4 linked regions of the Homo sapiens genome follow. The protein of the gene in region 3 interacts with the protein of the main gene of each other region in a biochemical or structural test. Each region holds a gene or a part of one and is shown on either strand. Other genes may lie near its edges. The genes, in order: ARHGAP32, RAPGEF1, CRK and EGFR.

Region 1 (7,143 bases), on a different chromosome or scaffold from region 3:
TCTAGATCACTTATAATAACTATCAATGTAAATGTTATGTAAATAGTTGGCATACAGTATTGTTTAGGGAATAATGACAAGAAGAAGCCTGTACATGTTCAATACAGATAGGACCATCCCTCTTTTTTCCCTGAGTATTTTTGATTCAACCAAGAGGTTGAATTCATGGATGCAGAACCCATGCATACGGAACCTGTGGGCCAACTCTGTTGCTGTGATTATTACTACTTACCACTGCTACTAGGAAAGTCAGCACTTTTAACAATGTTTCTCTTCGAAAAAATTCATTCTGACTTGCAGTGTTTAAATTGTTGCTGTAAGAATGCTTCTCTCTTTGCTGCTGTGGGATTAGCTATTTCCCTTCCCCTCAGGTTCCCTACCTCTTGGAGGTAGAAGATGAGAACCAGCTAGTTCGAAATTACTGCTGGTGACTCCTGTGGTTTCAGTCAAAGACTTCAGCTCCATAAAAGCTTGTTGGGAAAGTGAAGGCTGATCAGGGTTTAAACAAATCAGGAAGAAAAGGAGTTAAAACCACCTTGTGGTCTTCAGCAGTATCTAGTCTCTCTCACACACTGGTAGCCAGAGTGATGGACTCGGCTGTGTTCCATCCCTGCCCCCGCTGTTAACCATCACCTGTTGATTCCGCTGGATTTTCATTTACTACTGGAGAAGGGAACAGAAAACAGAAACACATGTAGGTTTTGAATTTAAAAACTTTTTTTCCTTTTTTTTTGAGACGGAGGTTCGCTCTTGTCTTCCAGGCTGGAGCGCAATGGCGTGATCTCGGCTCACAGCAACCTCCAGCCGAGGCGGGTGGATCACTTGAGGTCAGGAGTTTGTGACCACCCTGGCCAACATGGTGAAACCTCTTCTCTACTAAAAATAAAAAATTAGGCGGGTGTGGTGGCGGGTGCCTGTAATCCCAGCTACTCGGGAAGCTGAGGCAGGAAAAACATTTTTAAAAAACTTGTGATGGCAGAGTCAAAACAGAACAAGCCTCGGAAGATGTGCACATTTAACTGTCCTTCAGTATTCTGTGTAAAAATACCACTCACAGTTCACGTTTTCACTTTTGAAAGGCTCGAAGTGAGGGAAATCAACCATCATAATGAAAGAACAAAAGAATGATTAAAAGAAAAGGTGAATAGGATTCATGAAAACGCTTTGAGGCCGGGCACAGTAGCTCATACCTGTAATCCCAGCACTTTGGGAGGCAGAGGCAGGCAGATCACTTGAGATCAGGAGTTCGAGACCAGCCTGGCCAACATGGTGAAACCCCATCTCTACTAAAAATACAACAACAACAACAAAAATTAGCAGGTGTCGTGGCACACACTTATAATCCCAGCTGCTTGGGAGGCTGAGGCAGGAGGATTGCCTGAACTGGGAGGTGGAGGTTGCAGTGAGTCGAGATCGTGCCACTGCACTCCAGCCTAGGTGACAGAACAAGACCCTGTTTCAACAAACAAACAAAACAAAACAAAACAACCCCCCCCCCCACAAAAAAACAACACTTTGAAGGAGTTAGAGTTGTTTAGAAAAAAAAGAACTAGATTCTTAATGAAATAATATTTAAAAATCCAATTCTTTACTGAAGGTCATGAAAGATTCTATTTAAAATTAGTTAATATTTTGGTAAGGATTATATGTGCATGACATAGTGAAAAACTATCTTTCTTTCTTCTTTTTTTTTTGAGACGGAGTTTCACTCTTGTTGCCCAGGCTGGAGTGCAATGGCGTGATCTCGGCTCACTGCAACAATCTCCACCTCCCGGGTTCAAGCGTGTCTTTCTTTTATTCCTCTTCTCCAGCTGTCTGTTTTCCTCCGTGGAGACAACTACTGGTACTAGTACTGATCCTCTTCTTCCATAGATAGTCTGCATTTGTTTCTCCTAACTCCTCATTGAAAACACAGATGGCAGCATAGCATACTGCACATACTGCCCTATACTTTTACCCCTTTCTTCTTTGCCTTAACAGTATTCCTTAGGCTTTGTTCCGTATTGTGACCTGTAGGGCTGCCTTGTTTTCTCATATACTCACTGTGTAGCATTCCATTCTATGGGTATTCTGTAATTTGCCTAGTTTTCTATTCCTCAGGAAGTTAGGTTGTTTTTGCTATCCTATTTTGCTACTATAATGTCTACCAGAATGAATGTTCCTGTTTGCCTCTTACTTCTACTTGTGAAAGTGAGATAATTTCCTAAAAGAGAAATTGCTGGGCCAAAAAGATGTGCATTTTGAATTTTGGTAGATTTTGCTAAATTGCCCTGAACACAGGTTGTACCAGTTTAAACTCCCACTGACAGGCATGTTTCTTTTCCCATGTCCTCTTTCAGTTTGTTAAAACCTTTTAAAAGCTTTGCCTATGTGATAGATTTTTTAAAAGTCATCTTATTATGTATTGTTTTACATTTCTGTTATCAGTGAAGTTACTTTTAACATCTTTTAAGTTTCTTTTATGTTTATCTCTGAGTATTATATTTTTGCTCTTTGCCTATTTATCTTTTGAGCTCTTGGGTCTTAGAAGTTTTTAAGAACTTTTTATATATTAAATAAATTAACCCTTTGTGATATGTTTCAAATATTTTTTTCTCAACTTGTTTGCATTTTGACTTTGCTTATAATGTTGTTCTGTTGTTTTTGGTTTAAAAAATTTTTTTTGAAAAGTTTTTAAAATTTATATATGTATTATATGTATTATATAATATATATTATATATAATATATAATATATAATATATATTATATATTATATAATATATATTATATATTATATATAATATATATTGTATATGTATTATATAACATATATTATATATATTATATAACATATATTATATATTATATATAACATATATTATATAATATATATATATTATATATAATATATATATATTATATATAATATATATATTATATGCTCTAGGGACCTGCATATATATATATTTTTTTTTTTTTTTTTTTGAGACAGGGTCTTGCTGTGTTGCCCAGGCTGGAGTGCAGTGGCGTGATTATGGCTCACAACAGCCTTGAACTCCCAGGCTCAGGCGATCCTCCCACCTCAGCCTGTTGAGTAGCTGGGACTACAGGGTGCACCACCACACTTGGCTGTTTCCCGCCCCCCCCCCCCCCCCCCCATAAAGATGAGGTCTCGCTAAGTTGCCCAGGTTGGTCTTGAACTCTTGAGCTCAAGTGATGCATCCACCTCAGCCTCTCAAAGTGTTGGGATTACAGGCGTGAGCCACTGTGCTTGGCTCTTTATTTTTCAAATATGAAAATTCAAGAAGACTTCAGTAGATGTCTTCTTAATTTTTGATTAAATCAGATACAGTGGAAAGTCAGGGCTTTGCAGTTTGTTGCTGCTTGGTAAAAGACAAATAGCCATGAATATCCAGCAGGTCAGTAGTTTCTGTCAACATGGCTCTTTTCTAAGTAACAGTTGTGTTGTTGACAGTCATAGATGCTATACCTTTCACTCATTTCCCAGCAAGTCATTTTATTGCCACCATGACTGTTTGCAGTTTAAATGTGTAAAACTTTGCATGCTTTTATTTGATGTGATTGTCAGCATCTTTGAACTTGGGACACTTAAACTTTTTTCTTTCAAGGACTGTGGACAAGCCCAGCTTTTATGTCTCACTCTGGATACTTGAGCAGAGATGCATATGGCAGTCCTTACTGAGAGGAAGGAAAGATGGGTGTAATATTGGAAGGCATGAACCTAGGCAGGTCCCTAGAGCATACTTATCTTCTCTACTTATTGTGAGCCTCCTTAACTGTGAGATCTATAACTGTGCTTCTCATGTGCTTGGCCAGTGGATGGTGTTATTCTTTCTAGTTTTCTATTTACCTTTCTGGAGTCCGAGATCAAAAAAGGATACAAATAAAGCCTGCATTTTGAAAATACCTATTTTTAACTTATTAAGTGGAAACTTTGAGAAGAGTCATTATTACAGAATAATTAGTAAAAAATCACCTTCATTTAGATTCTGCTTTTGGTTATGTAGGTCACGCAGCCTAAGGCAGTGGGAGGGTCTAGGTGTCACCAGTATGGCAGTCAGACGCAGTGACTGTGCTGCCTGTGATTTCCTGTCTGTACCCTGACTGTAATTAAACCAGCACCAGTACCTGTCACTAGGGCACCAGACACACATCTGAGTATACATGAGTAGAGCTGAACAACCTGAATGTTGGTGCTTTTTATTCCATGCCTGGAGGTTTAGTTTTTTTTGTTTTTTAAGTACAAGATGGAGACTGAAAGTGAGAGTAGCACTTTAGGGGATGACAGTGTCTTCTGGTTGGAGTCTGAAGTTATAATCCAGGTGACTGACTGTGAAGAGGAAGAAAGGGAAGAGAAGTTCAGGTGATTATGGAATTCACAGTTCCTTTGTCCTGTCCACTCCCTACCCCCACCCGCACCCCTTTTTCTTCTCTGCATTTCGGTCTTTTTTCCAATAAGACTTTCTGTTTTCTGGGGGAAGGTTTGGAGCTCAAGGGAGCAGGTTTTGAGTTGTATATAGCACTCCTCATTCCACAACTTGCCCTGAACTTGTAAAATGCATTTTAAAGGACTTGTTAGAACGCCAGGAGGAGAAGGTGTTAGACAGGTTTTGTAGTAGCCTTTCAGGAATTTCAAGTAGACACTCATAATGAACTACTACCCCTTCCTGTATCTGATTTGTATCAAATAGATTTGATCTGAATTTGTATCTAATAGATTTTTCTTCCTCTTTTTCTTGGAATGTGGTGTGTGTGTGTGTGTGTGTGTGTGTGTGCGTGCCTGCCTGCCTGCCTGCTTTGTTTGCCTTATGCATGGGTATGAAAAATTCCGATTAAGTACAGATTGGTTATTTTGTGGCTTTGATCTTTACCCTTGTCTCTGATCTTGTATCTCATGCCCCCTTTCCCCCAAATCTCTCTTGGTTTTTGAATCTCTGGTAGTATTAGTAACTTCATAATTGAAGTTTTTAGAGGATGCCTCCTGATGAAGCAGCTCTCAGTTTAGTGTCTGTGGTGAAGAAAGATGTCTTAACCAGTTTGTGAAAACAGAACCAATGTTTCATTCATTCTGTTGTACTGTTGCAAATTTTAGGGGGCTTTATTCTGGCTTTTCTTTTTCTTTCAGAGTTAGCGATGTAATACCTTTGAGTATCACAAAAATCTCTTGATGAAGTTTGAAGTTTGTTGCTGCATATTATCACTGCCACTCACATGTGCAATTAAACATCTTTTATAAGTTTACCTATGAGAACTTGGATAGGTGAATATACTGTTTTCATCAGATACTGTCTTTGTGTTTAATGCTGAAAAAGAGTTTCTCCTTTTCTCGAGTCAAAGGATTTCTTTATCCACAAATTTTATTTTTTAAAGTCTAGGTTAAATGATGGAAGGGATTGAATATTGGGAACTCTTGATAACCCTCACTAAATTTTTTACTCTGGGGTTCAAATAAATGAGAAGTATATTTAAAATTTTAAAAGAATAATTTTCAGAGTATAAAAATGAATTATTAGCATATGATTATTTTTTGTCTGAACTTTTGTCTCATTTTCCCATAATTTTATCTAGCCTTTCAAATTTGAGTAAGTCCCTTCCCTTCCAAGGTATGCTAATTGTTAGTCACATGTTCTGCTTTTTAATATGGTTTGTGTCTTGCTAACAATGAGTAGGACTGAAGTATTTGTTTTGCTTGTAATAAAACTTTTTGACCTGGTATTCAAATTATGGAAGTTATTTGGGTATTTGTCAAAGGAAGAAACAACTTGGAACTTATTTCATTGTTGTTTTTATAACAGATTTGGTACTGTAATCCTAGATTTACTTGTAAGGCAGTGGGCGTCTCTCTGGGATTTTCTTTTGACAGTTAAAAGCAAATTTGTGTAAGGATGAGCTCTTCTTTTCCTTGGGAGTATGTGACAGCATTTTCACTCTGAGAAACTGAGCTAGTGATGTGTTGTTTAAGGAAACTATGATACCATAGGGCATTTCTCTTCTGTTTATATTTCCTATCTGAATAGCACCATGGCTCTCCTAAATCAATTATATCTTTGTGATTTGATCTGATTTTATTTACAAATGTAACAAAGAGGTCTGGGCAAGGCCCAATTTCATGTAGTGTCTCTCACGCATTCAGCAGTGAGGCATGAGGAAATGTGGCAGCAGAGTGGTTTCACAACCTCGTGGTGGTGTTCCTGCCGAGATGCCCTACAGGAAAATGGAGGCATGGGTGTGGAAGGGGAAGGGTCGGATAGGAGTTGCAGCTGTAACCTTGGGAGGACCAAATAGTAGACTCAGTGTGGTATGACAGTTGTTTTTGTAAAATCAATGTAATAATTTTAAAAATGTCTTACTGTGTTTTTATAAAAATCTCTGCAAATACATGTGACATCAAGCTGTCGTATTGGTTACATTTCCATTCACATACACACACATAGCTGAGATGAGGGCAAAAGATTGTGCACTTTTCTTTTTCCCTGAATAGCTTGTAAACTACATTTTAAATGCACTCTTAAAAGCCTGCTCTTGTGTAACTTAAGGCACCATGGCTAAGAGAGTAAAGTCATACCACACCTAGAATGTAGGCTTCTGGTGCTTCCAGGTGCCATCTGCTTTAGGAGGAAGTAGTCTCAGAGACAAGTTAATGTTTGTCCAGTAGCTTTTGAAATAGCATTTATTTTTGGACTCAGTTGGAGGAAAGGATCCTTTTTATTAACACTCTTTCACTATGGGAAGTTGCCGGTCTCCTTCATGGTGGTAGTTTAAATTTGTCTGCCATTGACTCACAGATCTTTCATTTTCTGATTTCTTATTTGTAGTCGGTATTATTACCTACCTTGTCACTGTGGTAAAATAGTTATTAGACTAGAATATTTAGTCCTTAGAATAAAATAGTTCCTAGAGATGATTAGAAAAATCCATCCCTGGATAAGAAGGAGGAATATAAGGCAGAAAAGGAAAAACATAAATGTTTTAATTCTATCAAGAAAGAAAAACTTTACTTAGAAATTGTTATATGTAATGTACTAGGCCATATATATGCTTTATACAGTGTATCAGTTAACTGCTTATCACTCCTATAAAGCAGGTATCATTTTTCCTATTTCCTCGGTGAGGAATTTATGGCTCAGAGAGTCACACAGCC
Region 2 (6,956 bases), on a different chromosome or scaffold from region 3:
CCTTCCCTCTGCTGGAGTTGGTGCTGCCGCAGTACAAGAGCCCGGCATGACCCCTTGTCTTAATAGGGCTTTATTTTCTGTTATCTTACAATTTATTTTGTTTTCAGACACAGGTCTCACTCTATTGCCCAGGCTGGAGTGCAGTAGCTATTCATAGGTGTGATCATAGCACCCTACAGGCTTGAACTCCTAGGCTCAAGTGATTCTCTTGCTTCAGCTTCCTGAGATGCTAGGCTGTTCCACAGCCTCTGCTCCCAAGTTTTCTCACAATTGGCACAATTCCTAGGCTGGCCAAGTCACATATTCTACCCCATTCCTGCAGTCATTGGCCTGGGGATAGACGTGTGACTCAAACTGAGCTAATTAGACTCTGCCATGGGGCTCTCTTTGAAACAATGAGGAAAGAGATCCTCTTTGTCCATTGGGGTTGTTAAGCAGGCAGGTGACAGGCCCAGGACTGCTGGTGCCCAGCTTCACCCTTTGCTACCTTGTAGAGAAAGATGACCTGAGAAGGGAACCAACATAGAGGACCAATGGCCTTGTTCCAGAGCCTGGGTTAGCTGCATTTGGACCTAATTGTACACCTGGTTTACTAATTATGATCTTCAAAAAATGCCCTTCTTGCTGTAAGCAATAGCAGAGCTAGGTTTCTGAGAGTGAAATCAAGTTTCCTAATCAGTACAGGAGGATGGCCCTGTTGGGGCGTGTCAGGGAAGCATTCTCCATAGAAGTGACAGTGAAACTAAGAAGCAAAAGATGACTGGGACCAGCCAAGTGGAGAGGAGGGGAGGGAACATTCTAGACAGCAGGAGCAGCTCATGAGAAGGTTCCAAGTCAGCCAGAACTGGGCTTTGGGAATCCGTTTGCTTCATTACCTTGTGTGTGTTCTACTATAGTTATAAACATCTTTGATGAATAGCCTTTATTAAGTAAGTTCTGTGACCCTGATTTACCATAATGTCCATTTGCAAAGTACTTTGTTGTTTGCAAATCTTTTGTCATTGGATATGTCATAATTTATTAAATATATTTGTGTTCTCACAAACCCCTGACTGCACCTAGTATCCATGCAGTCTAGTTTTCTACTTTTCAACCAGGATTTTGGATTTAAAATATCGGCTCTTCTCAGCTCAGAAGCCTAGAAGGGTTGGGGGCAGCATTGAGTGTGTTTTGGGGTTGGGCCTGGGACCAGGGGCCAGTTTTGCCTGGTAAGGCATCTGCCAAGAGGGCTGAACAGGGCCACCCTGGATCAGAGCATCCATTCATCAGGTGGAAGAGGGAAATGAATTTGTCAATCTTTGGATTTGCCTTTGACCTCTAGAGGGCTGCAACTGATGAAATGATGATGGGAAATTTGGCTGCCATCTATGACCATCTCCTTTTTTTTTTTTTTAAAGAGGGAGTCTCGCTCTGTCACCCAGGCTGGAGTGCAGTGGCGCGATCTTGGCTCCCTGCAACCTCTGCCTCCCAGGTTCAAGTGATTCTCGTGCCTCAGCCTCCTGAGTAGCTGGGACTACCAGCGCGCACCACCACGCCCGGCTATTTTTTGTATTTTTAGTAGAGATGGGGTTTCACCATGTTGGCCAGGCTGGTCTCGAACTCCTGAACTCAGGTGATCTACCCACCTCGGCCTCCCAAAGTGCTGGGATTACAGGTGTGAGCCACCACACCCGGCCTGACTAGCTCTTAGTTGTGGAATCGGTGACCCTTTAGACTGTCCAGGGAGATGGGAATAAGAATCTCTCACAACATTAGCAGTTTTTCCTCCTCCCTGCACCTCCCCCAAATCCTGTCCCCATCACTAGGTTATTTAATTTACTTATTTTGGGGGAAACAGGAGGGAAAACTAGCCCAGGTGGTGCGTGCTACTTCTTTGTATTCCATCTTAGACTAACAACAGGAAGCAGGCAGCAGAATTGCCCCACATTGGAACATCACTTGCGTTACTAATTTGTTGTTATTTACTACTTGTATTATAGGATTTAACTTTGACTTCCCAGCTAAGTTGTGAACTCTTTGGAGGGAAGCACCAATTGTGCCCACTTTTGTAGGGCCCACAGAACCCGAAATAGTGCTTAGACTTAGCAGATCCTTTGATTCTTAAATGACTTTTTTTTTCCTTTTTTTTTTTTTTTTTTTTAGCCAGGGTCTTCCTCTGTCACTCAGGCTGGAGTGCAGTGGTGCAATCATGACTCCCTGAAACCTCTGCCTCCAGGGCTCAAGTGATTCTCCCTCATCAGCCTCTCAAGTAACTGGGACTACAGGCAGGTGCCGCCGTGCCTGGCTAATTTTTGTATTTTTAGTAGAGACGGAGTTTCACACATTGCCCAGGCTGGTCTCGAACCCCTGGGCTCAAGTCATCCACCCACCTCAGCCTCCCAAAGTGCTGTGATTGCAGCCGTGAGCCACTGTGCCCAACCACGACTTTTTTTTTTTTTTTGAGACGGAGTCTCGCTCTGGAGCCACCAGGCTGGAGTACAGTGGCATGATCTCGGTTCACTGCAACCTCCATGTCCTGGGTTCAAGAGATTCTCCTGCCTCAGCCTCCCAAGTAGCTGGGACTACAGGCGTGTGCCACCATGCCCACCTAATTTTTGTATTTTTAGTAGAGATGGGGTTTCACCATGTTGGCCAGGATGGTCTCAATCTCTTGACCTCGTGATCCACCTGCCTCGGCCTCCCAAAGTGCTGGGATTACAGGCGTGAGCCACCGTGCCCAGCCACGACTTTTAATGAACTCATTTCCACACTAGAAAAGTTCCACAGCTGAGCCCCAGGGTGCCCTTCTGGATGTCAAATAAGCAGGGCAGGCAGGGTGTGCTGTGTCCCTGAGGGAGTTGGGCCCAGGCCAGCATGGAGGCTCTAGGCCTCAGGGGACATTTAGGCCTGAGTAGGGCCAACCCCAGCCCGGGACAGGTGGCTCTCGCTGGCAGGGTGACTGAGTCCCACATGCAGGGCTGGGGTGGAGAATGAATCCTCCGCCTTGGCATAGACCTTGGGCCAGCAGAGGGCTTTCATGCCAGAGTGGACTCATTCCCCGGCTGGAGCCTCTGGGCTGGCAGGAGGTGCTATGAGGCCACTCCCAGGCCCTGGTGTGGGGTCTCCAATTAAGAAGGGGGTGCGGGCAGGGTGCAGTGGTTCACACCTGTAATCCCAGCACTTTGGGAGGCCAAGGTGGGTGGATCATGAGGTCAGAAGATCGAGACCAGCCTGGCCAACATGGCGAAACCCCGTTTCTACTAAAAATACAAAAATTAGCTGGGCATGGTGGCATGTGCCTGTAATCCCAGCTACTCAGGAGGCTGAGGCAGGAGAATTGCTTGAACCCGGCAGGCAGAGGTTGCAGTGAGTCGAGATCGCGCCACTGCTCTCCAGCCTGGCGACAAAGTGAGACTCGGTCTCAAAAACAAAAAACAAAACAAAAAAGGGGGTGCTGCATCTCTGGTTTGGGGGAGGTCAGGACAGGCTCCCAGCCAGCAGAGCTTGTTGAGTCCTGGTGAGAGTGAGTTCTAGGCCCTGGTGTGGAGCCTCTGGCCCACAGGGGATGCTGGGTCCGGGATGATGCTAGGGTGGGGTGGGCGTCAGTTCCACGTCCTGGGGTGGAAAATCTGACCCAGGAGGGTTCTCTGTGTCTCTGGTGAGGGGGCAGGCCAGGCTCTTGGGCAACCGAGGACCCTGGGTTGGAGCTGTCAGTCCCAGGTCTGGAGCTGGTGACTCTGGTCCCACAGCAGAGGAATGCGGAGTCCCAGGCGGGGTCGGCCCCACACCCCAGGCCCCAGGCCCCGGCGTGGGGACTCCGGCTCGGCAGGGGGCGCTGCGTCTCGCGCGTCGCGCGGGAGGCTCGGGCGGCTCCGGGCCCACAGGGGGCGCTGTGGCGGCGCGGCGGGCGCCCGGCAGGTGGCGCTGTGGCCGTGGCCGCGGCCGAGGCCCGGCGGGCGGGCGGGCGGCGTCGCTGCGCTGCGGCCGGCTCGCGGGCCGGGGGAGCGGCGGCGGGCGCGCGGGAGGCGGAGCGGCGGCGGCGGGCGCGGCGGGAGCGGCTGGGCCCGGGCGGGCTGGAGCGCGGTCGCCGAGCGCAGGGCCGCGGCCGCGCGGAGCCCGCCATGCCGGCGCGGGTCTGAGGCGTGGCGAGCCAGGGCCGAGGCGAGCGGCGGGCGCGCCGCCCCTGTCGCCCCGCGGCGGCCCGGCCCGGGCCCGATGAGCGGCGGCCTCGGCCTCCGGCGCAGCCCGGAAATGTCCGGCAAGATCGAGAAAGCAGGTGAGGCGCGGGCGTGGGGCGGCTCCCTCCGGCCGGGCCCGGCCCTGGGGCTCCGCCGCTCCCCGGGCCGAGCGCGGGTCGCCCGGGATGTGCGGCCCTCCGTGCGCCGGGGCGGGGTGAAGCCACCGAGGCCTCGCCGGGGCGCCTGGCAGCTTCTCCTCCAGGCCCATTGCCTGCCGGGCGCGGGGGGAAGCGGCCGCTGCGGGGGCGCCAGGGGCCGGGCCGGGCGGGGCCCCTGCAACCCGGGGCCGGGCGCGCTAGCCGCTCCGCGGTCCCCGGGAACTTCCGAAAATGGCTCGAGCCCCAAGCAGGGGAAGAACAGCCCGGGCCGCGTGCTGCTGCGGCTGCAGCGATCGGTGCCCGGCCTGGGCTCGGCGCTAGGAGGGTGAACCCAGCTGAGCTGTAAAATGTGTCATTTCTAACGAGCTTCGAGTTTAACGAGAAGCGTCCACTTCGGTTGCTTCAAAGGAAGCAGGCTGGATGAGTGGGGGTATTTTGAGGAGGTAGTCAAGTTTCCCCTCCCCACCCCGATCAAGCTCAGCTCTGCAAGGAGGGCAGGTGGGGGACCGGTGGGTTGGAGTAGATGGTAAATCTTGATGCAGACCTCGTCTCTTTGTGTGTTCCTAGAAATCTGGGGGAGTTACCTTCCGAGTCCCTGGGTTTGCCTGTCCTGGAAATAGAGTCTCCAAAGATTCAATGACTGTCGAGCCTGTGGGGCCCCAGGCTTTATTAGCCTGCAGCACCTTGCAGGGCAAATGCGAATTCTTGGGTCTAAGGTGAAGTGGGCGGGTGCTCCTGGGCTCCTGTACTGGGAGCATGCCCTGTGGTCATAACCCCGGTAGCAGGTTAGCTTGGCGGCTGAATGAGGGAAAGCAGATTTTTAGGGAGCTGCAAAGGAGGTCTGTGGCTTTGATTGTGGAAGTTGCTTATGTTTCCTGGGTTGAATCTGGGATACTTCTGTGGGGTGCACCCCTGCAGCGGACCCACAAGGCAATATGACTTTTGCAGGCTGTGGTTGAAGCACAGAAGGACATTTTTGTAGGCTTTATTGAGGGTTTACTATATATCTAACTCTTAGCACCTAAAATGCATTGCTTCTTAAATTTTTGAAGCTAGTCTGTGGGAAAGAATATGGTCCCAGTTTTACAGGCTCAGAGAGGTTCAGTGAGTTCCGGCTGTCCAGACAGCAAGAGGGCGGCAGGCCCCTAGTATATTCATTCCTGGCCCTCTGACCAGAAGCCAGGGTGCTTTTCTCAGGGGCAGGGCGCTTGGGTTCAGGTGCCATTTCTTGAGTATTTTTCTCACTGAATTTGAGCCCCCACAGCCTTGCCGAGTGACCATGAGTCGCCATCCTGTACACCTGCTGCTCCAGAAATAACTTGGGTTCATCTGTGCAGCATTTCTCAGGAACTTCTTGTATAGTGTCTTGTCAGAACGGTACTGTTGGGAAACTTGGATAATTTATTTTAAAAAGAACATTCACTGAGTTCTTTTATAAGAACTTTATAATATATAAGATTATATTATATCTTTTTATATCTAATATAAGATTATATTATGTTTTATATCTTTATAATATAAGAATATTCTATGTTCATTGTCAAAACTTGGAAATCACAGAAAAGTAAAATGAACCGGATTGGAAATCATCTGTCAGCCAGGTACAGTGGCTCACGCCTGTAATCCCTGCATTTTGGAAGGCCAAGGCAGGAGGATCACTTGAGCCCAGGAGTTTGAAACAAGCCTGGGCAAAATGGCGAGACCTCATTGCTACTTTAAAAAAAATTTTTTTTTTTTTTTTTGAGACGGAGTCTTGCTCTGTTGCCCAGGCTGGAGTGCAGTGGTGCGATCTCGGCTCACTGCAAGCTCCGCCTCCTCCTGGGTTCACGCCATTCTCCTGCCTCAGCCTCCCGAGTAGCTGGGACTGCAGGCGCCTGCCACCACGCCTGGCAAATTTTTTTGTATTTTTAGTAGAGACAGGGTTTCACCGTGTTAGCCAATATGGTCTCGATCTCCTGACCTCGTGATCCGCCCACCTCGGCCTCCCAAAGTGTTGGGATTACATGCGTGAGCCACCGCGCTGGGCCTCTTTTTTTAAAAAAAGGAAAAAGTTGCCTGTCATCCCATGAGCTGCCCAAACCGCTGGGAATGAAATGACTCTTCATTTGAGTTCTCTGCTATTTGGGAGAAAGACCTGAGGCCAGTTCATTTCAGCATAGTTTGTCCTTGGGCCTTTTCTGGGCACCGCCTTCTGCTAGGGGGTTGTAGATGAAAGTGCCTGCTCCCAGAGAAGCTTGTCTAACCTAGCACAGTTTCTAAGCTACCCAGGCTGCCAGACCGAGCGACCGTGCTGCCATGGACACAGGTGAGAGAGGGGTGTCATGAGTGCGGGAATGAGGAAGACACTGGAGGGGACAGTGTTTGTGCTAGGCTCTGAAGAGAGGGCTGAGATATATACCTGGTGGAGACAGGGAGAAAGAGGAGAGAGGGGAAGGGGCTGACCAGGAGCTGCGGAAAGTGTGGGAGGAAGATGCATTTTGTGAGAAGCAGAAAAAGTAAGAGTTCTGAGATTGGCAAGACCAGGGTCAGGACCTCGCCTGCAGATTGGGGATTGCAGATGTGGAGCTGGCTGGAAGTCCAGCCTCCTTGCAGAAGGTCTTTTGCTGCAGTTCATAGGAATCATAGTGAAAGATTACAACTG
Region 3 (7,026 bases):
GCGGCACGTCTTAGGAAGACAACCTCCCACCCGGCTTTCACCTTCACCTGGATCTATGTTCCTGCTAAAGACAGTTGGAATAACGCACTGTGTCCTGAGATACAACAGAATCGCCATGAGCAACTACGACCATCTGTGAACACTTCCAAGGTACTCTCTCCACTGGAAGAAGGAAGGTAACCACCCCCTGCCAGCCACTGTTACCATAGCAGGCCGAGCGAAATACATTTTGGCGGGGAAAGAACAAATGAGACTACTAAGCCAAGTCGCTCTGAAAGATGAGTGAGAGAAAACTTGGCAGATCATCTGGCGCAAAGGTAGGAAGCAGGTTTAATTCTCTTCTTGGTCAAATGCCACAATAGCGTGAACTGGGCTCACTATGACTTTTTTTTTTTTTTTTTTTGAGGCGGAGTCTCGCTCTTTCGCCTAGGCTGGACTGCAGTGGCGCCATCTCGGCTCACTGCAAGCTCCGCTTCCTGGGTTCACGCCATTCTCCTGCCTCAGCCTCCCGAGCAGCTGGGACTACAGGTGCCCGCCACCACGCCCGGGTTTTTTTTTCTGTATTTCTAGTAGAGACGGGGTTTCACCGTGTTAACCAGGATGGTCTCGATCTCCTGACCTCGTGATCCGCCCGCCTCGGCCTCCCAAAGTGCTGGGATTACAGGCGTGAGCCACCACGCCCGGCCGTGACTTTCTTTTTGTTTGGCAATCCCAATAGACACAGAAACGTAAGCAAAACGCCACGGAAAACCTTTGATGTACTTTACTTATAAATTATTTTTCTATTCTGACACTGTAATAATTTCACAGAGAAATGCCCGTTTCTGTGAACTGCTGGGGGCCATCAAGCTTCATTGATCCAAACTCCAGAAGGAAGGGAGGAGAACAGAACACACATAAGTCCCAGATAAGCCCAAACCTCACCATGGCTGTGTGTTCCGGCTCCTTTTCTCTCTTTCCTCTCCTTCCAACCACAAACAGCCAAAGGCAGGAAATAGAAGGGCGGGAAAGGAAGGAGGCACAGTCAGCCAGTCTAGAGAACAGAAGCAACGACAGGATTCTCATAGCTATCTGGGACTTGGAAAACCTCAATGACTTGTTCTACATCACCCTGTGCTGGATTCTGAACGTGGAGTTAGGAAGTCACACAAACGGAAATCAAAATCAATGCAAGGAGAGGATATCCTTTCAGCTTCTCGGTACCTGCTCAGCCCGTTACTTCTAAGCCTTCCAAGCATTTCAAGCCTCAGGTTACGACCATTTTTACAAGGCCACTCCCTCCCTGAAGGTTTCATGAAGAACACCTGAGGGCTCTGTGGGCTAAAATAGGCCCAATCACTTCTGACGGGTCTACAAGAGCGGGCCAGGCTCTCCTTGATCTCACAGCACTTTCTCTTTTCCTTTTTTTTTTTTTTTTTTTGAGACGGAGTCTCCCTCTGTTGCCCAGGCTGGAGTACAGTGGTGCGATCTCAGCTCACTGCAACCTCTGCCTCCTGCCTCCTGGGTTCAAGCAATTCTCCCTTCCTTAGCCTCTCGAGTAGCTGGGATTACAGGCGCCCACCACCACACCTGGCTAATTCTTGTATTTTTAGGAAAGACAGGGTTTTGCCATGTTGGCCAGGCTGGTCTCGAACTCCTGACCTCAAGTGATCAGCCAGCCTCAGCCTCCCAAAGTGCTGGGATTACAGGCGCGAGCCACCACACCCGGCCCTCTTTTCCCTTTTTTCCTCAATTCTTGCTCCCTCCCTTCCTTCTCTGCCTGTGGTATTTACAGGGGTTGCTTAGATAAATACCCACCAATACAAAACGCTAAAAAGGCCACTGGCTCGGGAGGCTGAGGCAGGAGAATCGCTTGAACCCGGGAGGCGGAACTTGCAGTGAGCAGAGATCGCGCCACTGCACTCCAGCCTGGGCGACAGAAGGCCACTGGTTTCCATCTGAGAAGATATATGGTCTCCTAAGCAAATAGAATGTTCTAAAGATGGTGGGTATGAGGACGGTCCTTTGCAGGTTTGGTGCATTGTGGCTCTCATTTTCTAGCTGTCTGAGTTACCTAACTTCTGTGTGCCTCACCCCCGACTCTGCAAAATGGGGTCAAATACCTATCTAATAAATAAAGTTCCTAAAGTGGCTAGAGGCTGGGCGTGGGGGTTCACGCCTGTAATCCCAGTACTTTGGGTGGCAGAGCCAGGCAAATCACTGAGGTCAGGAGTTCAAGACCAGCCTGATCAACATGGTGAAACCCATCTCTACTAAAAATGCAAAAATTAGCTGGGCATGGTGGTGCACGCCTGTAGTCCCAGCTGCTGGGGAGGCTGAGGCAGGAGAACTGCCTGAACCTGGGAGGCAGAGCTTGCAGTGAGCCGAGAATATGCCATTGCACTCCAGCCTGGGTGAGAGCAAGACTCCATCTCAAAAAAAAAAAAAAAAAAAAAAGAAAAAGTGGCTCGTACATTATAGGTGCTCAATAAAAAGCAACCAATTCTCCAAATTCCTTCAGCAATTTTCAATTCATCCTCAAATCCAGAGCCCACTGGACCGTTTCCCAGAGAAAATTCCACAGGATCTCAAGATGCTTCTCAAAAGTTCTGTGGTCAGGCAGGTGCGGTGGCTCACACCTGTAATCTCAGCACTTTGGGAGGCTGAGGCAGGAGGATCTCTTTATTTTTTTCTCTATTTTTAAAAACTGATTAACCAATCTTTAGGGAGACATCTGTTGAGGCCAGGAGTGCAAGCCCAGCCTGGGTCATACAGTGAGGCTGTAGTGAGCTATGACGGAGCCACTGCACACCAGCCTGAGCAACAGGGCCATCAGCAGTCTCACGCTACCTCCAGAAGTGGCTTGGCCCAGCTGCCAGCCTGGCATGTAGCTCTTCACTACCTCGAGGGAGTATCACAAACTATTACCACCCTAGCTTCTGTCCCACGCCTTCAAAATGAAGCACGTTTTATGCCCCCCTCCACCCACTAGCGCAACAGGTCGGATGAGCAGGTAACAGGAGGCACCATCTTATTTCCAAGTGCTGGACCCGAGGTCCTTTCACACTTACGGATGCACTCCACCCAGGCACCTACTCCCCAAGACAAACTGTTTCACCAGTTCCTACCATCCACAGCATGAATTCCACAGCCTCTCAAAGATAAGAAGTTTTCCATTTTGCTTCAAAAGCCCCCACACCTCAGTTATGTTATTAAGATTCGTATACATGAAATGCTTATGGAGTACTTAGTATGCCAGTACTGAATATGGAGTATCATTCCAACAACCCTATGAGATCAGTATTACTATTTCCCTCCTTCACAGATGAGGAAACTGAAGCAGGGAAAAGTTAAACAATTTGCCCAAAGTTACACAAGCAGTAAGTGGTAGGTAAATAAGGCCCAACCCAGGATCCACAGCTCAAGCTTATAACGACTCTCCTAACTCACACTCCTTCAGCTGTGTCAACCTGAAAGGTTTAGCTGTTCAAGAGAAAAAAAACTAGTTTCTTGCAAGCATTCCAAGGAGGTCCATCTTGAAGCCCAACCTGACAGAATGTGACCAGTAGACTTGGCCAAGCCCTTCCTTATGGCCCCAGGGAACTCCCAAGCTATGGCACCACAGGAAGCCTATGCAAGCTGAGGACCCAAGACAAGTTAAAAACAGGTTCAACGGAAAAGGCTGAGAATCACTGGCCCATTCTGTACCCATGCCTTTAAAAATAATACCCAGCTGCGCACGGTGGCTCACGCCTGTAATCCTAACACTTTGGGAGGTCAAGGCAGGTGGATTACTTGAGGTCAGGAGATCGAGACCAGCCTGGCCAACATGGTGAAACCCCCATCTCTACTAAAAATACAAAAAAATTAGCTGGGAGTGGTGGCGCATGCCTGTAATCCCAGCTACCTACTCAAGAGGCTGAGGCAGGAGAATGGCTTGACCCGGGAGGGGGAGGTTGCAGTGAGCTGAGATCGTCCCACTGCACTCCAGCCTGGGCAACAGAGCAAGACTCTGTCTCAAAACATAAATAAAGTTTAAAAAATAAGGCGCGGTGGCTCAGGCCTGTAATCCCAGCACTTTGGGAGGCCAAGGTGGGCGGATCACGAGGTCAGGAGCTCAAGACCATCCTGGCTAACACGGTGAAACACCTCTCTACTAAAAATACAAAAAATTAGCCGGGCATAGTGGCGGGCGCCTGTAGTCCCAGCTGCTCAGGAGGCTGAGGGAGGAGAATGACGTGAACCCGGCAGGCGGAGCTTTCAGTGAGCCGAGATCGCGCCACTGCCCTCCGGCCCGGCGTGGGCGACAGAGCGAGATTCTGTCTCAAAAAAAGAAAAAAAACACATAAAAATGACACCTAAGCCATTCCATATAATTTTCACCTATGCACTGTGTAAACAAAATATACTCTGTAGGCTAGATGCGATGGCTCACACCTGTAATCCCAGCACTTTGGGGAAGCCGAGGCGAGCGGATCACTTGAGGCCAGGAGTTCAAGACCAGCCTGGACAACGTGGCAAAACCCCGTCTGTACTAAAAATACAAAAAAATTGGCTGGGCATGGTGGCGCATGCCTGTAATCCCAGCTATTTGGGAGACTAAGGCAGGAGAACTGCTTGAACCCAGGAGGTGGAGGGTACAGTGAGCTGAGATCGCGCCACTGCACTCCAGACGGGGCAACAAGAGCGAAACTCCCTCTCAAACAAAACAAAACAAAACAAATAGGCCGGGCGCGGTGGCTCACACCTGTAATCCCAGCACTTTAGGAGGCCGAGGCAGGCAGATCACAAGGTCAGGAGATCGAGACCATCCTGGCTAACACGGTGAAACCCCATCTCCACTAAAAATACAAAAAATTAGCCGGGCGTGGTGGCGGGCGCCTGTAGTCCCAGCTACTCGGGAGGCTGAGGTAGGAGAATGGCATGAACCCCACGGGGCGGAGCTTGCAGTGAGCCGAGGTCGTGCCACTATACTCCAGCCTCGGTGACAGAGCGAGAAACTGTCTCAAAAAAAAAAAAAAAAAAAGCAATAACAATTTTAAAAAGCTTCTTCATCATTGACTTTAGATAGCAGATGTGTATTGTCTGAATAATAAAGCCAGTGGCACGATCTCAGCTCACTGCAACCTCTGCCTCCGGGGTTCAAGCGATTCTCGTGCCTTAGCCTCTCCAGCAGCTAGGATTACAGGCGTCCGCCACCACGCCCAGCTAATTTTTGTATTTTTTAGTAGAAACAAGGTTTCACCATGTTGGCCAGGCTGGTCTCGAACTCTTGACCTCAAGTGATCCACCCTCCTTGGCCTCTCAAAGTGCTGGAATTACAGGCATGAGCCACTGCGCCCGGCCTCTTCTTGCCATTCTTTAATTCTGGTCTTTAAAAAACCTGGGCTGGATGCGGCTGTATGTGCCTGTAGTCCCAGCTACTCACAGCCTGAGTCAGAAGGGCTGCCTGCCCCAAAGTTAAGGGCTGTAGTGCACTATGACTGTGCCTGTCAACAGCCACTGCACTCCAGTTTGGGCAACATAGTGGGGGGAAAAAAAAACAAAAAACACAAGGCCGAGGTGGGCGGATCACCTGAGGTCAGGAGTTCGAGACCAGCCTGGCCAACATGGTGAAACCCCGTGTCTACTAAAAATACAAAAAAAAAAATTAGCTGGGCACAGTGGCACATGCCTGTAATCCCAGCTACTCGGGAGGCTGAGGCAGGAGAATCACTTGAACCTGGGAAGCAGAGGTTTCAGTGAGCCGAGACTGCACCACTGCACTGTAGCAGCCCGGGGGGCAAGAGCGAAACTCCATCCAAAAACAACAAAACAAAAAACACCAAGTCTTAGACTCCAGGGCAGAGGCAAAGTATTGAGGATATTGAGGATACGGACCTCTATGTGCACTGCTGAGATGCCAAAAGAACGCTGGCTTTGAGAGTGTAGTGTAAAAGGGTCAGCTCTCAGGTCAGAATGCCTAGGTTCAACTTCTGAAAGTCATTTATTAGTTGTGTGACCTTAAGCAAGTTACTGAATCTATGAGTGTTTCCTCCTGTATAAAATGGGAATATTTTAATAAATGGAGATCATATTACTTATCTCACTAGATTGTCCTAGACAGTAAGTGAAATAAGGTACATAAAGTACTCAAAGTACCTGGCACAGAATAACCAGTCAATAAACATTAGTTATTAATATTCTATACGCCTCTCTAAAAAATTCAAGAAATTTCTCTGTGTGACTTCAAAAGGACTTGGTGAGGGGGAGAACAAAGATTCAGTACTTAGTACTTGAGATTTGTGAGGTACAAAGTAATTCTGAGGTTATACAGACAGGCCAGGCGCTGGTGGCTCACGTCTGTAATCCCAGCACTTTGGGAGGCCGAGGTGGGTGGATGATCAGAGTTCAGCAGTTCGAGACCAGCCTGGCCAACATGGTGAAACCCCATCTCTACTAAAAAAATACAAAAATTAGCTGAGCATGGTGGTGGGCGCCTGTAATTCCAGCTACTCAGGAGGCTGAGGCAGGAGAATTGATTAAACCTAGAAGGCAGAGGTTGCAGTGGGCCAATATCGCGCCATTGCGCTCCAGCGTGGGAGACAAGAGTAAAAACTCGGTCTCAAAAAGAAAAAAAAAAAAAAAGACAGCAACTGACCAGGCACAGTGGCTCACACCTGCAGTTCCAAAACTTTGGGAGCCTGAAGCATGAAGTCTATTGAGATCAGGAATTTGAGACCAGCCTGGACAATACCGTGAGACCCCTCATCTCTACAAAAAAATTTTCAACAGTTAACCAGGCATGGTGGATACGCCTGGAGTCCCAGCTACTCAGGAGGATGAAGTGGGAGGATGGCTTGAGCCCAGGAGGTCAAGGCTGCAGTGAGCTGTGTTCATGCCACTGCACTCCAGCTTGGGTGACAGAGGCTCTGTCTCAGAAGAGAGAAAAAGACAGCAACTGAATCGTAGAAAATGGGGTACAACATGGCAGAAAGAATTATCACAATACTCGTGAATTTTCCACACCCCATCCATAAACTTTGGCAATCTTCACCGTCTTTCCTC
Region 4 (7,026 bases), on a different chromosome or scaffold from region 3:
GGACTACAGGCACGTGCCACCGCACCCAGCTGTTTTTTTTGTATTTTTAGTAGAGGCGGGTTTCACCATGTTGGTCAGGCAAGTCTCAAACTCCTGACCTTGTGATCCGCCCGCCTCGGCCTCTGAAAGTGCTGAGATTACAGGCATGAGCCACTGAGCCCAGCCAACCATCTTTTGTTTATCTGTCATATGTTTGGACTTAATCAAAAGTGGATGACATCTGACATTGGGGTTCCAGGGTTTTTGTTACCTATAAACAGATAATTGCTTAACTTTCTAATAATATATTAAAATATACTTTATTTTAAAAATCTAGTTGGAGCCATTAGATCTTGCAAGTTAGCACTAGAACAAACTTAAAATAGTTTGTCTAGTTTATCTTGTTCGGCACAATTTGAAGCATTTACAATGGCTTACAGTGTATGAGAATGAACTAGGAGATAATTTTGTAAGTGAATAGAAACCATTGTAATAAAATCTCCTGAAAGCTTTCAGGTATTCAATGATTGCTGGTAAATAAACAAAACCAGGTTTTTGAAATTAAAAAAATGTTTTTGAAAAAGTTTCTAAAATTTGGTATACAATGATCAGAAAATCTCAGGACACCTTTGCCTGTCCTTAAGGACCTGCACAAATTCACTAAGTGGTTTGTTTTTATTCCAGCACTAAAATAATGGATAATTTGAGTATCAGCAGAGACACTAAAACATGCACAGTTTTTCACATACAAATGCCAGTTTGTCTTATCAGAGAGACTATGTGCAATGCATCAATTTTATCCAAAACCTGGAGTAAAGGAAAGAAATTTTAGCAAAGGGTTGTAATGACATCATAAGTAAAACGATAGGACTGCTAAAACAATCATGACGTCATCTGCTGTGCACTGGCCTGCAAGCATGTAGTGGTAAAATCGTCAGATATCACATTTCTGCTTATAAAATAAAATCCTTCATGAATGCTCTTAAAACAACTGCAAAGCAAGCAGTGGTCTTTACCTCCATATGTGTGTGTGTGTGTATATATATATATATATATATATATATATATATATTTTTTTTTTTTTTTTTACATAAAGGCATGAATATACAAGGTAATGTCAGCAGCTGTACTCCACTCTTTATTTGTTGCAAATCTACCTATTTGTTTCCAAAGGATGTCTGCAAATAAATAGGTAACATTGTACAGCTTTCAACAGTGGATCAGAACATAGATGTCTCTTCTAATTCACAAGTACCAATGGCTCAATTAATTTAAGGGACATTTTCTGAGTTGTGTGATTTCACATGTATTTATCGTGTCTAGAACTGTGCAAACTTTTGTTTCATTTCTCTCTTAGATTTCTGTAGGAAGAGTTAAAGGATGTGAAGTAGTCATTTTACTTATTCATAACACATTTTAGGGAAAATTGTGCTGTTGCTGTTGGGGAGAAAGTTAAAGCTATCAACTATAACCTGGACTCCAGTCCAATTTTTCACATCTGGTTGCTACTTTTAAAAAGGATCATTTTAATTTTTAAATGCAGAATGTGTTGCACTTTATCTTTGACATTCCAGGTTTCCTCATGGTCATTTAGAAAAATAAAGCAGGAAATTCTAATGCCTTAGCATCTACTTTAATAAGATGTTTGCATTTATAAAAATAACAAGAAACTGAGGGTTTTGCTGAAGGAGCACAGGGCCTACAAGTATTTCCTCATTCCTGTCCCTGTGCCTGGAGGCCCAGCTAAGCATTCTGTTTCTGAGAAACTCCCCTTGTCACAGAGGCTGAATTAGTCAGTCCCTCTTTTGGGCTCCCACTGAAATCCCAAATCACATCTGTTATAAAACATTGCATTACAGGGAGTGATCTTGTATGTGTCTCTCTTTCTCAGCCCTTCCAAAAGGTAAGTCGGTCCTCAGAGGACAAGTGCAGTTATTTTGTTCCCTTGGTGTATCTAGATCCCAGCATGCGATGTGCCTGGAGTATATCAGCAGTTCTCAAAATCTGGCATGCATCAGTCAGAATCTCCCTGAGGACTTGTGTGCACAGACCGGGGCCTGCCCTTCCAGTGTCTTACTCAGAGGCCAGGGTGGGGTCCAAGAGTGTGCATCTCCAACAGGTTCTCAGGTGCTGCTGCCATGCTGGGCCCGCTGAAAGCCACTGCAGAAAGCTTTTTTTTTTCCCTTTTTTTTTTTGGCAGTTAAAGAGAGGTTTTCTTTAGTTAAAACCTGGGAGGCACTCCTGGTGAATTTTGGTCAAGAGCGCTTTCTCTTACAGACTAGGAGTATATATTGGTTTTAGGGTGAGGGAGATTATCAGAATTTTGGAATGTTCCTGTTTGAGGGAGAAGTTTTATGGCAGGGTTGGAATATCTCTGGGAGGAGGCAAGTTTATCTTGGGGCAGGCATCTTTCCGGCCAGAGAGAGGTTATCCCGAGACTGGCATCTTCCCTGCTGGAGGGGGGTTATCTCGGGACTAGCATGTCTCTGGTCGAGGAGGAGTTTCGAATGTTTCCGGTTGGAGATGTTATTTGTGGTTTATGGTCATGCTGACCTTAGCCATTAGGCTGATGCAGTTTGAATTTAGGCAGTTTTTTATTAAGGTGAACTTTAGAATGAGGGGCTTGTCCAAGATGGCGATGCTCCTGCTCTGTCGAGCCAGACCCTATAGTTATAAAAAGGAGGAGGGGTGGAGTGTTCTTTCTGGCTATTTCCTCACTGCAGGAAACTTTTAATGGACTAACTTGTGAAATAAAATGTGACTCTGGAACTGATTTACTAATGAAATATGCAACTGTTTCTGGATCTCGAAGGAGCTCATGAGATGAGTAAGAAATGGGGGTCTGAGAGCAAAGACAAGATTTCTTTCGTTACGAGCTACATACAACATGTAATCCACTCCTCAGAATTGCCAAGGGAGCTTTAAGAAATGTGTGTGTGCCAGGCTCCATTCCCCAGAAATACTGATTGTCCTGGTCTGGGGCACAGTAAGGCACCCTCTTTTTCAAAAGCCCCTCAGCTGGTTAGAAAGCATGGTCAAGGTTCAAAAGCTACTGCTTTAAGAAAAAAGAAAAAAAATCATCTCCTACTTTTTTTGGTTCAGCCACTAGCGTACAAAACCAAGTAATGTGATGTGGTCTTAAGCAGGGAACAAGAGATCCCCATTCCGAGTATTTGCAGCAATATATAAACATGACTTCTGGTACACTTATATGCACAATATATTATATTACCAGTTGCTGATAACTGCAACTAATCAGCTGCTGACTATAGCAGCCTCACCTAGAGAGAAGCTGGTATCCAGAACCCCTGGTGTGGCTCAATTTCGATGCTGACGGTGAGCATGAGACAGGTGGAGCCAGGAAACTGTGAGAGGAGAACTTGTTCTGTGATCTAAGACAAGTAACTGACACGGAAATATGTGAGCAAATGACAACTCAAGCCACATTGCTCTCCTGTGCTCTGGACCACCGTATTCTACTGCCTCCTGGACTTCTCCATCTGAGCACTTCAAGCTCAACACATCTAAAAGCTGAATATTGATATTGGACCCTCCTGCCCTTCCTCTTCTCCTCCCTTCCCTTCCCTTCCCTGCAGTCCCATTGACTTCCCAGCCTTTGTGATTGCATTCAGTATCTATCCAGGCTTCCAAGTGAGAAGCCTGGGTGTCAATCTGGGATTCTTTCTTTCTTATGCTGCTACATATACTTATCAACCAGTTCTGCCTCCTGATCAGCCCCGGAGTCCCCTGTCCTGAATCTTCCTTGCTCCTGCTTCATCCTCTGTCTCTGGCAATAGTCATGAACCTTCCTGTTTCCAATGCCACTCCTGCAGTCCATTCCCCAAACCGCTGCTGCAGCCATCTTTCTAAAACACCAAACACAGCATGTCAGTTCACAGTCACTTCTCTTTCACACAGGACAAAATCCAAAGCCACAGTGAGGATGGAGCTCTCTGTGAACTGTAGGTAGCCTTACCATTTATTCCTTCTCTTCCTGCCATTTGAATTACTAGCACTCTCAAGAACTTTGCTGCTATTGGCACTGCTTGTGTAATGCCCTGCACATCCTATTCTCTGGGGAAATAATCATATAACCAAATAGCTCAAATGAGTAATCCCTTCCATTTGTGGCTAAACGTGCTCTCCTCCCCATGTAGAATTAAAGGCAAAGACTGAACTCAAAAGTCATCCTTTGTCCTGGGAAGAGTTCCGTCATTGATTCTGTGACATTGTTTCACACTTATTATCTCTAGCTCTCTTTCCCCAGTTGACTTCCAGACACTTAAGGGCAATTACCAAGTCTAATTTATTCTTACATCTCAACATATGGATGCAACAGTGTAAATCACTCATCATGGCTCAAACATAAAGAAAAAAAAGCCTAAGTTGTAACAGGTACCAATACTTGCCCTTCTATGCAAAGGGCAAACAATCATGGTTGACTTACGTAATTATTTAAACTAAGTCAGGGCCATGTGTGCTGCCGCGCTAGTAATGGTGTAATTGCAGGTGTACTTAGGGCTGCCTGCAAGGCATTCTCATTGGGTGCCTTGTCCCCTAAATTATAACTTGAGTCTTTTGTTAATGAGAAGTTCCAGATATATTCAGAAAGGACACTTGGACTCCGAGTCTCTCCTTGAAAACCCACCAGAATGAGATAAAACTTGGATCAGAGAGAGAAATTCTACTCCCCCATGTTAGTGTTTCCATACTGCTTGCTAAAGCAAGCTGCTGAAACTGGTAGGAGTAAAATTTACTCTAAGCATATGCAATTCACAGATGCTCAGTCCACAGGACCAGTCATTTGATACTGAACTTCAGGGCCTTCAGGGATTGAAATGTCAAATCTAGCACTTACTTTCTAGGGGCTCAGTAAACACACCCCCAATATTCCTGGCCCCAACTACCCCTCCTGCTCCCAGCTGGCTCAGGGAACTTTCTAGACAACTGGATTGAGTGTATCTATCTAAATGTGTAGCAAGAAAGCTTTATCAGATGACTCTGAAAAAGTGAAAATTACAGGCAAACTAGTTATTTGAATAAGTTCCAATGCCTGGATTCTTGCCCAAATTCAAACTGGCCAGCTTGTGCCTATGGGCCCAATGGAGGACAATCTAGAGATGTCGTCCAAAGAGCCAACTGCTGGAATTTTCTTAGAAAATTCATTCCTGTAGGAGGAAAACGAAAAAGAACGAATGAGAAAACACTATGATGTTTAATGGGGATGGCCTACAGGAACAAGTTAAGATTTACACTCTATTCTCTATGGATTAGTGGTTCAAGAATAAACCAGTAATAATTAACTGAGACTAACAATGTTTATTACCATAATTTCAAATGTCCATAAGTGATAAAGGAAAACAAAAATGGAATGGATCTGAGGAACAGAATCTGTTTTTTTTTTTTTTTTTTTGAGATGGAGTCTCACACTGTCGCGCGGGCTGGAGTGCAATGGTGCGATCTTGGCTCACTGCAACCTCTGCCTCCTGGGTTCAAGCAATTCTCCTGCCTCAGCCTCCTGAGTAGCTGGGATTACAGGCACCTGCCACCACGCCCAGCTAATTTTTTTTGTATTTTTAGTAGAGACTGGGTTTCACCGTGTTGGTCAGCCTGGTCTCAAACTCCTGGCTTCATGATTCGCCTGCCTCGGCCTCCCAACGTTTTGGGATTATAGAGGTGAGCCACCATGCCCGGCCCAGAATCTGGTTTTAAAAATTATATTTACAGGGAAGCAACATGTGGGTGAACCATATTCTAAAACTTTGAAATTTTCTCAACACATACCCCTATTAGTAAAACCCAATGTTAAATAAGCTCATAACTAGAGTACTTATGAAGTCAAAATTAAAACACGCACACACAGACACACAGGCACACACACAAGTCACATGGCAAGGGCCACACTGTGTTGCAGGTGGGTTCTGCAACAGGCGAAATGTCCTCAACATTGTGACCCATCCCTATTCCGGGGCACCAGCCTGGGGTTACCTTCCCTTCAGTGCCCATAATCATCAATTGCCTTTAATATTAGAGTTGGTTTGTCACTCTCGTCAAAAAAGTTTCAGATGCTAGCTGCTAGTCTTAGAGCTTAGATCAAAGAAAAAACAAAGAATATTTTCTTTTCAAACAGGGAGGAATCCTTCATCTTTGCTGAGACTACTTCTAAAAACATTTCAGAACATGTTAGTGCTGTCACGTGGACCAAGTGTAATTATGCAGCACAATGGACTTTCGGCAATCGGTGTCTTCAAACCAGAAGTTTTTGAAAAATCATGAGTTATGAAACTAAATACGTGAAGCCAGAAATTACTGTTAAAAGCCTATTGGAGCTCTCAGCCAGTTTCTTGTATTCTGTGCTACGGCAGTGTGGGTCTAACACACAAACCACTGGTGTCCTTTCCAGATTTGAAAGCAATCTGGAAGCAAGAGCAGAAACCCTTAAAACTCACCCCCCCTTCAACCTTTAGCCCAGAATATCTAGCATATTCTATGCACTCAGTAAATATTCACTGAATTCAGAAACAACAGCTCAGAAGCCTGAAGGGTCAAAGTGACTTGTCCACCTTCACCCTGGGCTGGAGTGAGAAGAAAGGTCCCAATTGCCAGGCCGGGCTTGGGCTTTCTTGATCTGACCTCCTTTGAGGAGGGAGGGTGGGGTAGATCTCACTTTGGATACCATTAATATCCCCACTTTGGTTTCTCTTTAAGACAGCTCGGACCTACTGAATGGGAACGTCTCCAGAAGTGGGGCTGGGCGGGCTTATTTCCACAAAGCTCCCTCAGTTGGGAATTCGACTCGCCTTGGAATACTTTCCAGTGTCCCTTCTGGAGAGCACCTTCATCCTGTAAGAGGCAGGGCTTTGCTCAGCACCCCTCAAGCAGTCTCCACTCCATGCTCACTGAACTGAGGACTAAGCTGCCTCTATGGAAGGTGACCCAACAGAGGGCTGAGGAACTCGGCAGGAATGCAGACTGCCGGACAGCCCGCGTTGAAGCTTCAGACAGGCTCATCGTCATGAGCCGGCTCCCTGGGCCCTTTCCCCTTGC

What was found.
Region 1: the proteins of CRK (region 3) and ARHGAP32 form a complex in vitro, tested with the Homo sapiens proteins (2 studies listed by BioGRID and IntAct, with this or other methods).
Region 2: the proteins of CRK (region 3) and RAPGEF1 form a complex in vitro, tested with the Homo sapiens proteins (4 studies listed by BioGRID, with this or other methods).
Region 4: the proteins of CRK (region 3) and EGFR form a complex in vitro, tested with the Homo sapiens proteins (3 studies listed by BioGRID and IntAct, with this or other methods).

What each region holds. Positions count from the first base shown.
Region 1 is NC_000011.10:129,189,305-129,196,447, reverse strand, and holds the start of ARHGAP32 (rho GTPase-activating protein 32), read left to right. Parts: upstream 1-4,122; 5' UTR 4,123-4,249; coding exon 4,250-4,365; intron 4,366-7,143. UniProt on the Homo sapiens protein: GTPase-activating protein (GAP) promoting GTP hydrolysis on RHOA, CDC42 and RAC1 small GTPases. May be involved in the differentiation of neuronal cells during the formation of neurite extensions.
Region 2 is NC_000009.12:131,737,069-131,744,024, reverse strand, and holds the start of RAPGEF1 (rap guanine nucleotide exchange factor 1), read left to right. Parts: upstream 1-3,948; 5' UTR 3,949-4,194; coding exon 4,195-4,255; intron 4,256-6,577; exon of another isoform or gene 6,578-6,610; coding exon of another isoform or gene 6,611-6,620; intron 6,621-6,956. UniProt on the Homo sapiens protein: Guanine nucleotide-releasing protein that binds to SH3 domain of CRK and GRB2/ASH. Transduces signals from CRK to activate RAS. Involved in cell branching and adhesion mediated by BCAR1-CRK-RAPGEF1 signaling and activation of RAP1.
Region 3 is NC_000017.11:1,446,207-1,453,232, forward strand, and holds part of CRK (adapter molecule crk), read right to left. Parts: intron 1-7,026. UniProt on the Homo sapiens protein: Involved in cell branching and adhesion mediated by BCAR1-CRK-RAPGEF1 signaling and activation of RAP1.
Region 4 is NC_000007.14:55,022,017-55,029,042, reverse strand, and holds part of EGFR (epidermal growth factor receptor isoform a precursor), read right to left. Parts: intron 1-7,026. UniProt on the Homo sapiens protein: Receptor tyrosine kinase binding ligands of the EGF family and activating several signaling cascades to convert extracellular cues into appropriate cellular responses.